Linked DNA regions of Homo sapiens. The protein of the gene in region 1 purifies or fractionates together with the protein of each later gene. This does not show direct contact. Each region holds a gene or a part of one and is shown on either strand. Other genes may lie near its edges.

Region 1 (4,937 bases):
AAGTGGGGACTCTTGTGCAGACTTCCACATCTCACATGCACACTGTTCTCTAGAGTCCTTCACTCAAACCTCAGAAGTCTTTTTGTTTTGTTTTAATAAAGGAAACCAATCTCTTTCAAAACTCAGAGAGGGAAAGTGACTTTCTCAAAGTCTATCACCCTGTTAAGCAGCGCTTAACTTAGACGTTTCTCTCATATAAAATTCAAAACACAAACTTCCATATATACAACCCCCTGAGCAGGCAACTAACTATCTAAGCTATTCATTTAGGAGAAGATCATCCATCTTCCAGTAGATCAAGAAGGAAGAAGAAACAGATGATAAAGGGCACAGCATTCCGATTTAAATGGCTTCAGCGAGCCACGAAGATCATTAGACATTATCTACACTCTACGGTTGTCACTCTTTGGTGGCTTGCCTGGGTGGCCGAAATCCTCGCCTAAGGAGCTGACATATGCTGCAGCAGCGCCATTCTCTTCTGCTGTCTTCCTTTGCTATGGAAGCTTTTCAGTGAGGTTTTGATCCCCTTTTATGGTGACACAAGTGAGTTTGTTCCTTGGTTTCCTTTGTTCATTTATTCATCCTTACTTTCTTGCTTCCTTCTTTCCTTCTTTTCCCCCTTCCATACATATTTATTCAGAGTCTTGAATAAAGCTCCTGTCTTCCAGCTTTAGGTTGTCAGATAATAGGTGCAATTGTTTTTTTAATTGGTGCTGGTCTTTGGTAATTTGTATACACGCATGTATACCTAGGCATTCATTAAGAGCAAGGCTCAGGAGTGCTGATATCCCATTGGCCAGGACTTATCACTTGCCTATGCCTAGCAGCCAGGGAAGTAGAGAAATGTTGATTTTTTTCTCTGCAGTCATGTGTCCAGTTAAAATCTAGCACCATTAAGGAAGAGAAGAAAGCAGATACTGGAGAACAGACTGCCACACTGGATTTCCCAGGTCTTTGTTCATTCTCATCTTTATCTGCTTCTCAATACCCTTTGCATCCCTCAAAATTCAGCTCAAATGTCATCTCCTTCGAGAGGTCTGCTGCCCAAAGAGAACCAATCTTTCTCTCTCCTCTGTTACTGTTCCACAATAGCACCTATCACATTGACTTGCAGCCAGTTATTTATGTGCCTGTGACTTCCACTAAATTGTGAAATCCTCAAAGACAAAGACCAGATTGTGCCCATCTCTGCATTCCCAGATCTCCAGAAACATGAGAGATGCTCCAGAAATATTTGTTTAGCCAATAAACCTCCAGAAATAATGGAAGGATATCTCCCCCAAATGAACAAGGTGTACCTTAGAGATCTTTTTCATCTTCCCCCTTTGCCTAATAGAGGCACCCCTATTGCCTGATATAACTCACTTTAGAAGAGAGGTTAAAGATGAAACTCTGAGTTTTCTGGGCAGGGGTCGGGTTGGGGGAAGGATAAAGCCCATACTGGATTCTAATCTTCTTCCAGATGTGGCCTCACATCTGAAATACACTCCCTGTCCTCAGGCATCATCAATGACATGCCATCAGTTCTAACAAGTTCTCATGGAATGCAGTCTTTTTACCCTGCAGGGGCAGAGCACTAGGCTAGGTACAGCCACAAGGGTACAAAGGCACCAAGCAGCAATAGTAAGGCTCCTAACCCCTTAAGTTGTGAAACCAAGCCTGTGGTCATGGGCAAGTCAAGAGCAGTTAATGACTTAAGACTTAAGACTTAAGAATATTCATAAAATTAAAGCAAATAATTCGGATTTCTGGCTGCAGCCACAGTAACCCACTCTAGCCAACAGAAGGGGGAAAAAAGGTCTTTATTTAAAAAAATACAAGGATTTCTTATGAAACTCAAGGAAAGACATGCACCTAAGCCTCAGGTAGTGCTAGAAACAAGAACATGTCCTACTAGGACATTTTATGTGATTTCAAGTTTATTTTCTCTATAGCCAATTGGGACCCATGCTTTTCAAAGTCTGAGTTACGTGATAAAAAAAAATTTTTTTTAGTTCCTTCAGGGAGGAGTGTGTTAGTTTTGTTAATAATGCCTGATAATTGTCCCCATCCAAGGCATGATTTACACGCAATTCCATTTCCAAATTCCCAGGGAAGGAGTTTGATTGGCTCAGCTTGAGTCAGGTGTTCACTCTAGGACCATCAGCTGGATAGGGTGCATGGGATCTCATTGTCTAAAGAAACAAGCTGTTATTGTCACCTACGGTTAGAGAGGTCCGGGAAAGGGTCATGCTAGGAGAGTCCACTACCATCTACCCAAAGCTGTAGTAATAGGGTGGCAACATGGTGTTGTGCTAAGAACATAGAATTTTAGTTCCGCCACTTGATCGCTATGTAGCCTTAAGCTCGCCACTCAACCCTTCTGAGCACCAGTTTCCTTAGCTATAAAATACAGAAAAGAATAATCTACCTTGTGGTGTTGTGAACATTATATAAGAGAACACTGGTAAAGTGTCTAGCAGAGTCTGGCATATGGTAGACTTGCCACTTCCTTCAAAGTCTACAAAGTGGTTAAATGTAAGCATGAATCTTCATGTAGCTAATGGGAAGGGAGAAAGGAGAATCTGTGGAGCAGCGGATCCAACAGAACTTTCTGTGATGACAGAAACGTTCTAGATCTATGTTGTACAACATGGTAGTCACAGGCCATATGTGGCTATTGAACACCCATATTGTAATTAGGTAAGGAACTGAATTTTTAATTTTATTTAATTTTAATTAATGTAAATGTAAACTTAAATAGGCAGCAGCATTCTTTTCTCTTTTTTTGAGACAGAATCTTGCTCTTTTGCCCAGGCTGGAGTGCAGTGGTGTGATCTCGGCTCACTGCAACCTCCACCCCCGAGTTCAAGTGATTCTCTTGCCTCAGCCTCCCAAGTAGCTGGGATTACAGGCACCCGCCACCATACCTGGCTAATTTTTGTATTTTTAGTAGAGATGGGGGTTTCACTCTCTTGGCCAGGCTGGTCTCGAACTCCTGACCTTAGGTGATCCACCTGCCTCAGCCTCCCAAAGTGCTGGGATTACAGGTGTGAGCCACTGCGCCGGGCCAGCAGCAGAGTTCTTAAGCAGTAGTTTCTATCTTGGCTACACATTAGAATCACTGGGGAGATGTAAATACTAATAATATCCAGTTCCTACCTAGAGAGATTCTTGTTTAATTGCTCTGGGATAAGGCCCAAGCCTAGGTGCTTTTTTTTAAAAGCTTCCCTGGGACTTCTACTCTGCAGCCTGAAATTGAGAACCACCAGTAAGGAGAAGGAGGAGGAAAAATGAGGGTTCTGGAAGTCTCAATGGGTTCCTTTTCTGAACTACTTGCATGCAGTAATTAGGCTGGCTAGTCTAGCTTTGGGTTTTACCATGCTTTAGGCAAAGTATTTCTACAGGAAGATTCATGTTAATCAGCGACACCTAACTTCAGCATAGGTGGCTTGGAGAGCCATTTTCCTTTTCCCACATGATCTCTTCTCTTCCCTTGCCAGGGTTCGTGTGAGCCAGGATGGGCAGTTTCTGCACTACATCTTTCCATACCAGTTCATGGACTCTCCTGAGTGGGAATCACTACAGCCTTCTGAGGAGGGGGTGTTCCAGGTAACAGGGAGCCTGGTGGCAGCACCGCCTCACCCCATCCCACTGTAGCCCAGCAATATCCGTGCCTCCATGTTTCCCCTCTTACATCTGTCCTTCGCACCCCTGCCAGTGTGAAGCTACAGGCGGGGGCACTCTTCCTCTGAAAAGAGTTCCTGGGCTCCTAGCCATAGGTGAGGTAGGGTAGGAAGATGCTGGCCCCTGGGTAGACCATGTTACTTGTATGCTTAAACTCTTCTGGAAGACCCTAGTGCCACAACATAAAAACCCACACTTGTTATAGGGTAACTTAAACCTTTTAGTGCTCTCTAGTCGCATTTCCAGCTCTCCCTCCTTCATATTTTTTGCTCATACTAGCCATGCTGAACCACTAGTACTTCCCTAAACACACCACATTGTTTTGCAGCTCTATGCCTTGGCCCCTACTCTCCCCTCTGAAATGCATTTCCCCTTCTAGATGAGACCACGGAACCTCACTTCCACTGTGAAGCCTGCTTCCACCCCACAGCCTCACCAGCTTCCACCCCACAGCCTAGCACTCCTGTGTGCCTGTTCTAGTCCTTTTACTTATGCTAACTGGTGCACATCTTGCTGTCTGTTCTAATAATCTGGTCTCCTTTCTGTCTTCTGCACAGTGAACTCTGAAGTACAAATCTAGGCTTTTCCCTCTCTGTTCCCAGACTCTAAAGGAAAGTACCTGGAGCACAGCAGCTGTTCAGTAAAGAATTGCTTGCCGGGCGCGGTGGCTCACGCCTGTAATCCCAGCACTTTGGGAGGCTGAGGTGGGTGGATCCTGAGGTCAGGAGATCGAGACCATCCTGGCTAACACGATGAAATCCCGTCTCTACTAAAAATACAAAAAATTAGCCGGGCATGGTGGCGGGCACCTGTAGTCCCAACTACTTGGGAGGCTGAGGCAGGAGAATGGCGTGAACCCGGGAGGCGGAGCTTGCAGTGAGCCGAGATTGCGCCACTGCACTCCAGCCTGGGCGACAGAGTGAGACTCCGTCTCAAAAAAAAAAAAAAAAGAATTGCTGAACTGGTTTGCCACTGGGCAGCTGGTGTCCCAGAGGACTCCATGGGGCATTCACATACATGCTCCAATGCAGGTTCCTGGCTGCCTGGCCCCTACTCTTCTTATCTCTGCCAATCCCTCAGGCTTTGGTCACTTTCTTTGTAGCTCTCACTTATTGAATGGCTAGCATGTGGCAGGCACTACGTATCATATTGCCTCATTGATTCTCATAACAACTCTATGGGTTGAATATGATTATTACTCCATTTAACAACTGAGGAAACTAAGGCCCAAAAACATCAAGTAATTTGCCCAGGGTCTTCAGCTAGAAAGT
Region 2 (4,937 bases), on another chromosome or scaffold:
AATGGCCCTCACACCTCCCAAGCTTCCCGGGGTGCGGCTGGTGCTCCCAGGCCTTAGCGCGCTGCTCTGAGCTCAAAGCCACCGCCACGGCTAAAACACAGCAGCGCCACGCACAGCACCGTGTTGACACGCTGCGATGAGGACATGCCAGGGCACGTTTCCTGTGCAGCTGGGGTGGGAAAGAGGCCTGGCCCCCAGACCCCGCCCGGCCCACCTCCTCGGCCCGCTGAGCCTCCATGTGCTTGTCCAGGTACGTCCCCTCCAGCACCGAGCCCACGATGGTCAGGCCCTTGCCGGCCTTCAGCTGCGACGTGAAGGACAGCAGGCGGGGGTGCTTCACGGCCTGCTCCGCGTCCAGGTTCAGCATCACCAGCACCTGGGGCCTGCAGCCAGGGTGGGGCGGCTGTTACCACGGCAACGCTTACCAGGGCACGGCCCATCAACAGGCAGGGCAGATGGGACGGGCGGGGCACACGACACAGGTGGGACGGGAGATACATGACAGGCGGGACAGGGGACAAAAGGGGCAGGTGACAGATGGGATGGGGAAACGTGACACACGTGGGGTAAGTTGAACAGGTGACAGGTGAGACAGGCCACAGAAGCCAGGTGGGACAGGCAGGGCCGATGGACAGGTGGGCACTAGCCAGGCAGGACAGGAGAACAGGTAGGTTAGACAGGTGGGACAGGTGACATGCTAGACAGGTGAGACAATGGCCCAGGACACACACCTGAAGCCCCCACCGAGGCCCTGAGGGGACAATGGCCCGGGGCACACCCGAGGCCCCCGCCGAGGCCCCTGAGGGGACAATGGCCCGGGGCACACACCTGAGGCCCCCGCCGAGGCCCTGAGGGGCAGAGGCTTCCCAAAGATGGCCTTTGCTTCAGCAGGAGCCACCCTCTCCCACCCCAAGCCCAGGGCTGTGCTGGCAGAGGGGCCGGCTCCCCACACCCCCACCCTGCAGCAGGGACACCCCCGGCCCCCAGCTGCGCCATCCGCTCTGCACCAGGCAGTGTTCACACCCCAGACCTTGCCTGAGCGGCTGAAGGTGAGAGGCCCCTGAGACTCAAAGGTCCCCACTCAAAGGCCGACCTCAGAAACAGCTCTTCTGTGCGTCTGAGGACCACGGGGCATGGGCGGTGCTCACCTCCAGTTCTTGGTGTGGGGGGGACCGTGCTCCACGCGCAGCAGGGCGTAGCGGGCGGCGTTCAGGGATAGGCCACGGATGCCATCGCCCCACTCCTTCTCGGCCCTGTGGGAAAGGAAGTCGGGGTTTGTCCAGCCGCGTACCTGGAGGCTCCTCTCCCACCTGGGAAAGGGGACTTCTGGGGGCAGGTGAGTTGGGGCAAACAGGACCCCCAGGAAAAGTCCCTGGATGAGGAGGGAGGCCTCCATGCCCACCCTTGCCCTGAAGGGAGCCCGTCCTAGGAGCCACCGGGTCAGAGGGTGCTGTGGCTGTGGAGGGAACGAGGTCTACGTCCAGCATGCGTGAGGTGCCTTCCTCACAGGACGGGGGACAGGAGGCCCATGACAGGGAAGTGGCTGGACCCCGGGCACGAGGCGGGTGCAGGTGGAGGGAGGGTGGGTGCTGGGGCACGGGGAAGGACGCCTGTGGCTGCCGAGTGAGTACAGACACAACCTGGGGACACCTCGCGAGACACGTAGCAGGAATAGTCAGCCGTGGGCTCACCGCCTGCTGAGGACGGCACGAGACAGAGCTCCAGGCTGGAGACCCTGTCCACAAGTGCAGGCACCTCGGCCTGGCTGGAAGTGGGAGGGAAACCCCAGCTTTCACAACACAGCCCACCTGGACGTGCTCCCAGCTGCCCCTGTGAGGGCACACGACGCTCAAGCCCCAGGGAGGCCCCTCCAGGGAGCTGCCCCAGGCATAGCATGAGAGGGGCCCGCCCTCCCGTGCGCCGGGTCTGTAAGGGGGGCTGACAGCGCTTACCCGCGGTACTCGATGTACTTGTAGATGCAGCCAGCGATGAGCATGGCGGACAGCGCGTAGTACCAGGAGCAGATGAACATCAGCGCCAGGCACAGGCTCATACCCAGAAAGGACAGGGTCCTGGGGGCGGGGCAAGTGGCTCGGGGCGGCCCAACGCCATGCAGCCCCCACACCTCAGCCACCACCACACGGACACTGCCCCTCCCTCAGTAAAACTCTCTGTTAACACTAGGAAAACAGTCACTGACGCCTGACGACCATGGCTGTACTCAACCACCTCTGAGGGGTGACGTGGCTCCCTGGGCCCCTGTGGGAGCTGTCACTCCAAAACCCAGTACATAGCTCCAGCTCCCAGCGTGCACACAGCACCTCGGCTGTGCATGCAACAAGGGGCTGAAGCGTCCACCCAGCGCCTGATTCCTGGGGAGGGGAGTTAAGAAGACCCACAGCCCTGATGGGCTACGCCCCAAGCCTGGGAAGGCTGGGCTGACCACGGGAGGTACAAGGCACATGCAGACACCTGGGCATCCTCGTAACCAGAGGCCTTCCTCAGGTGCAGTCTCATCAGCTGCGCAGGGGCTTACTCCGCAAAGGAACAGTCAAGGACGCGCTGGGGTCTTCAGGCCCAGAGCAGCTGGCCTTGTAGAGGCACCCAGTGTCCCAGCCTGTGGGGCTCCTGACGCCTGTGCTGAGCGGCCTCACCAGTGGCAGAGGCACCCAGTGTCCCAGCCTGTGGGGCTCCTCACGCCCGTGCTGAGTGGCCTCACCAGTGGTAGAACTTGAAGCGTGGACGCCAGTTGGGGGTACGTAGCAGGGTCTGCACGGCGCAGGCCAGGTTCACGAACAGGTAGCACATGAGGAAGAACCTGCAGGGACGGCCGGCCACTGATACGGGCCCACTGGGCCCCCCTGAGCCCCCAGTCACTGCCACCTGGGAGACCACCCTTGTCACTGTCCCTCCCACCTGCGCCTTGTCTCCCCATGTCTGTCTCTGCACGTGAGCTGACTCAGACTGATTCCGAATCAGGCCCCCTCAGGTTCCAGCCATCCTGTGACCACCTGGTCCATCAAGAGATGGGCCATCGTCCCTTCCCCAGCAGCCGTCTGTCCAGCCACACTGTCCCTGGCTGACCCCAGCGGGCGGCTGCCTGGAGGCCTGTGTACTTGTCTTCCCCGGCGCAACTCCCTTCCCGGCAGGATCCTGACTGCCCACAGCTGGCCATGCCTGTCTACTGCTTGTCCTGAGCAGGACCTCCCATCCACACTGCCCCACGCTCCAGGCCCATACACCCATCCCCAGGTCCCCGTCCTGTGGGGGCTCACATGGAGAGGATCGGGGCCACGCTGTCCAGAGAGGCGATGAGGATGCCAGTCTCGCAGATGAGGACTGTCAGCAGCAGCGCCCACGTGGGCTCCCCGTTGGCCTTCCCGTGGCCAAACACCTGCAGGGAGAAGGGCAGGAAGATGGGGCAGATGACACCACCCTTTTAGGAGAGAAGCTGCAGGCTGGTCAGGTCTAGCCCAGATGAATCTTAAAGACACAGACCAGCAGAAACGCCTTTCACAGTAGGTCCCCGGGACATCACGCGGCTGGCCTGGGAAGAAGCCCTGACAAAGGGCTGCAGCCCAGGAGGCTTCAGAGCTGTGCCTACGCCCGGCTTGCCTGCAACCTGTGTGGCCCCAGCCTGCCCCCCCGCCTCAGTTTCCCCGACCACACAACACAGGACCAGCGTCTCCAGGGCACTCGCGGTTCCCCAGACCCTGTGGTGACCTTTCTCATCAGGCCACCCTCACCTCCCAGAAGCTGAGGCCCACGGGGCCTGTGTGCCTGTCCCCTTCCTGGACACCATGCCCTAGGCCCGGCTGGGACTGAAGATGCAACCACACAAAGGCCCTGCGGGTCGGCACCCTGCCGAGGGACCAGCGACGGGCAAGGATGGCTCTGCCATCCACGACCTTCCCACAGCTGCCCCTGGGCCCAGGTAGCAGGAGGAGCCACAATCGGCAGCTCTGGGCACAGCACACGGACAGGACCCATGCGGGCGTCCGTGCAATCCTCAGAGCAGCCACACACACTGGCTGCAGGTGGCTGGTGACGCCACCTCCCACGGGCTGAAGAGCTCAGCCACACAGAGAAAGATGTGGCAGGCAGGCAGAGGGCTTCTGACCAGACAACAGACCAGGCACCTCTGGACACGTGGCTGTGGGCCCTCACAGCCGCTCCTGACACACCCGGGGCCGAGCTCGGAGGGACCTGCAGGCAGGAGGGCTAGAATTGCCTCTGCCCACCACCCACCTCCCACCACTCCCATGCTCTGTGCAGTGGCCAGGGGCAGAATGACCACCATGGGGTCCAAGCCGCGGGCATGCGTCCCACACACGGCACTGTGAGGATCCCGCAGGGGAGGAGAGCCCCCGACCCTGACCTTCCAGGGTCCCCCCGACGAGGGTGCGGGACTCACCTGCAGGAAGGGGACGATGCCGTCACGGGCAATGGCCTGCAGTAGGCGCGGTGCCCCCGTGAGGCTCTGCAGGCCGGCACCGCAGGTGGAGAAGAAGGAGCCGATGACGATGACCCAGGGGGAGGGCCAGGCCAGCATGCCGATGACCAGGTTCCCCTGCAGGGCCTCCCCGAACCTGCAGGCAGGCGGGCAGGCGGGCGGGCGGCTTTCAGAAGTGAGCCTGAGTCAGACAAAATGTCTTCTCCCACCCAGAGCGAGGGGCCCAGTGCAGTGGGGGCGACTCCTTGGAAAGCTGAGGCCCGGCCTCCAGTCCCCGTTGGCTGAAACCTCCACCAGGCTCTGCCCAGCATGGCCAGAATGCTCTGGAGGGTCTTCAGCGGGGGAGGGGGTCCTGCTCACCTCAGGGTCGCTCTTGGGAGCAGGGAAGACCCAGCCTGGCATCAGCTTCAGTCAGGGACCACCCAGGACCCCCGGGGCCTTGGGGCTGCCAGACACGCACACCCCATGAGGATGCAGGGTCAGT

Evidence for each region. The genes of interacting proteins can lie anywhere in the genome.
Region 2: the proteins of POPDC2 (region 1) and SLC12A7 purify together in Homo sapiens (affinity purification with mass spectrometry; 2 studies listed by BioGRID and IntAct, with this or other methods). This does not show direct contact.

The regions. Positions count from the first base shown.
Region 1 is NC_000003.12:119,653,159-119,658,095, reverse strand, and holds part of POPDC2 (popeye domain-containing protein 2), read left to right. Parts: intron 1-3,482; coding exon 3,483-3,591; intron 3,592-4,937. UniProt on the Homo sapiens protein: Important for the maintenance of cardiac function.
Region 2 is NC_000005.10:1,073,419-1,078,355, forward strand, and holds part of SLC12A7 (solute carrier family 12 member 7), read right to left. Parts: intron 4,590-4,937; coding exon 4,415-4,589; intron 3,395-4,414; coding exon 3,276-3,394; intron 2,819-3,275; coding exon 2,720-2,818; intron 2,073-2,719; coding exon 1,953-2,072; intron 1,254-1,952; coding exon 1,149-1,253; intron 384-1,148; coding exon 215-383; intron 1-214. UniProt on the Homo sapiens protein: Mediates electroneutral potassium-chloride cotransport when activated by cell swelling. May mediate K(+) uptake into Deiters' cells in the cochlea and contribute to K(+) recycling in the inner ear.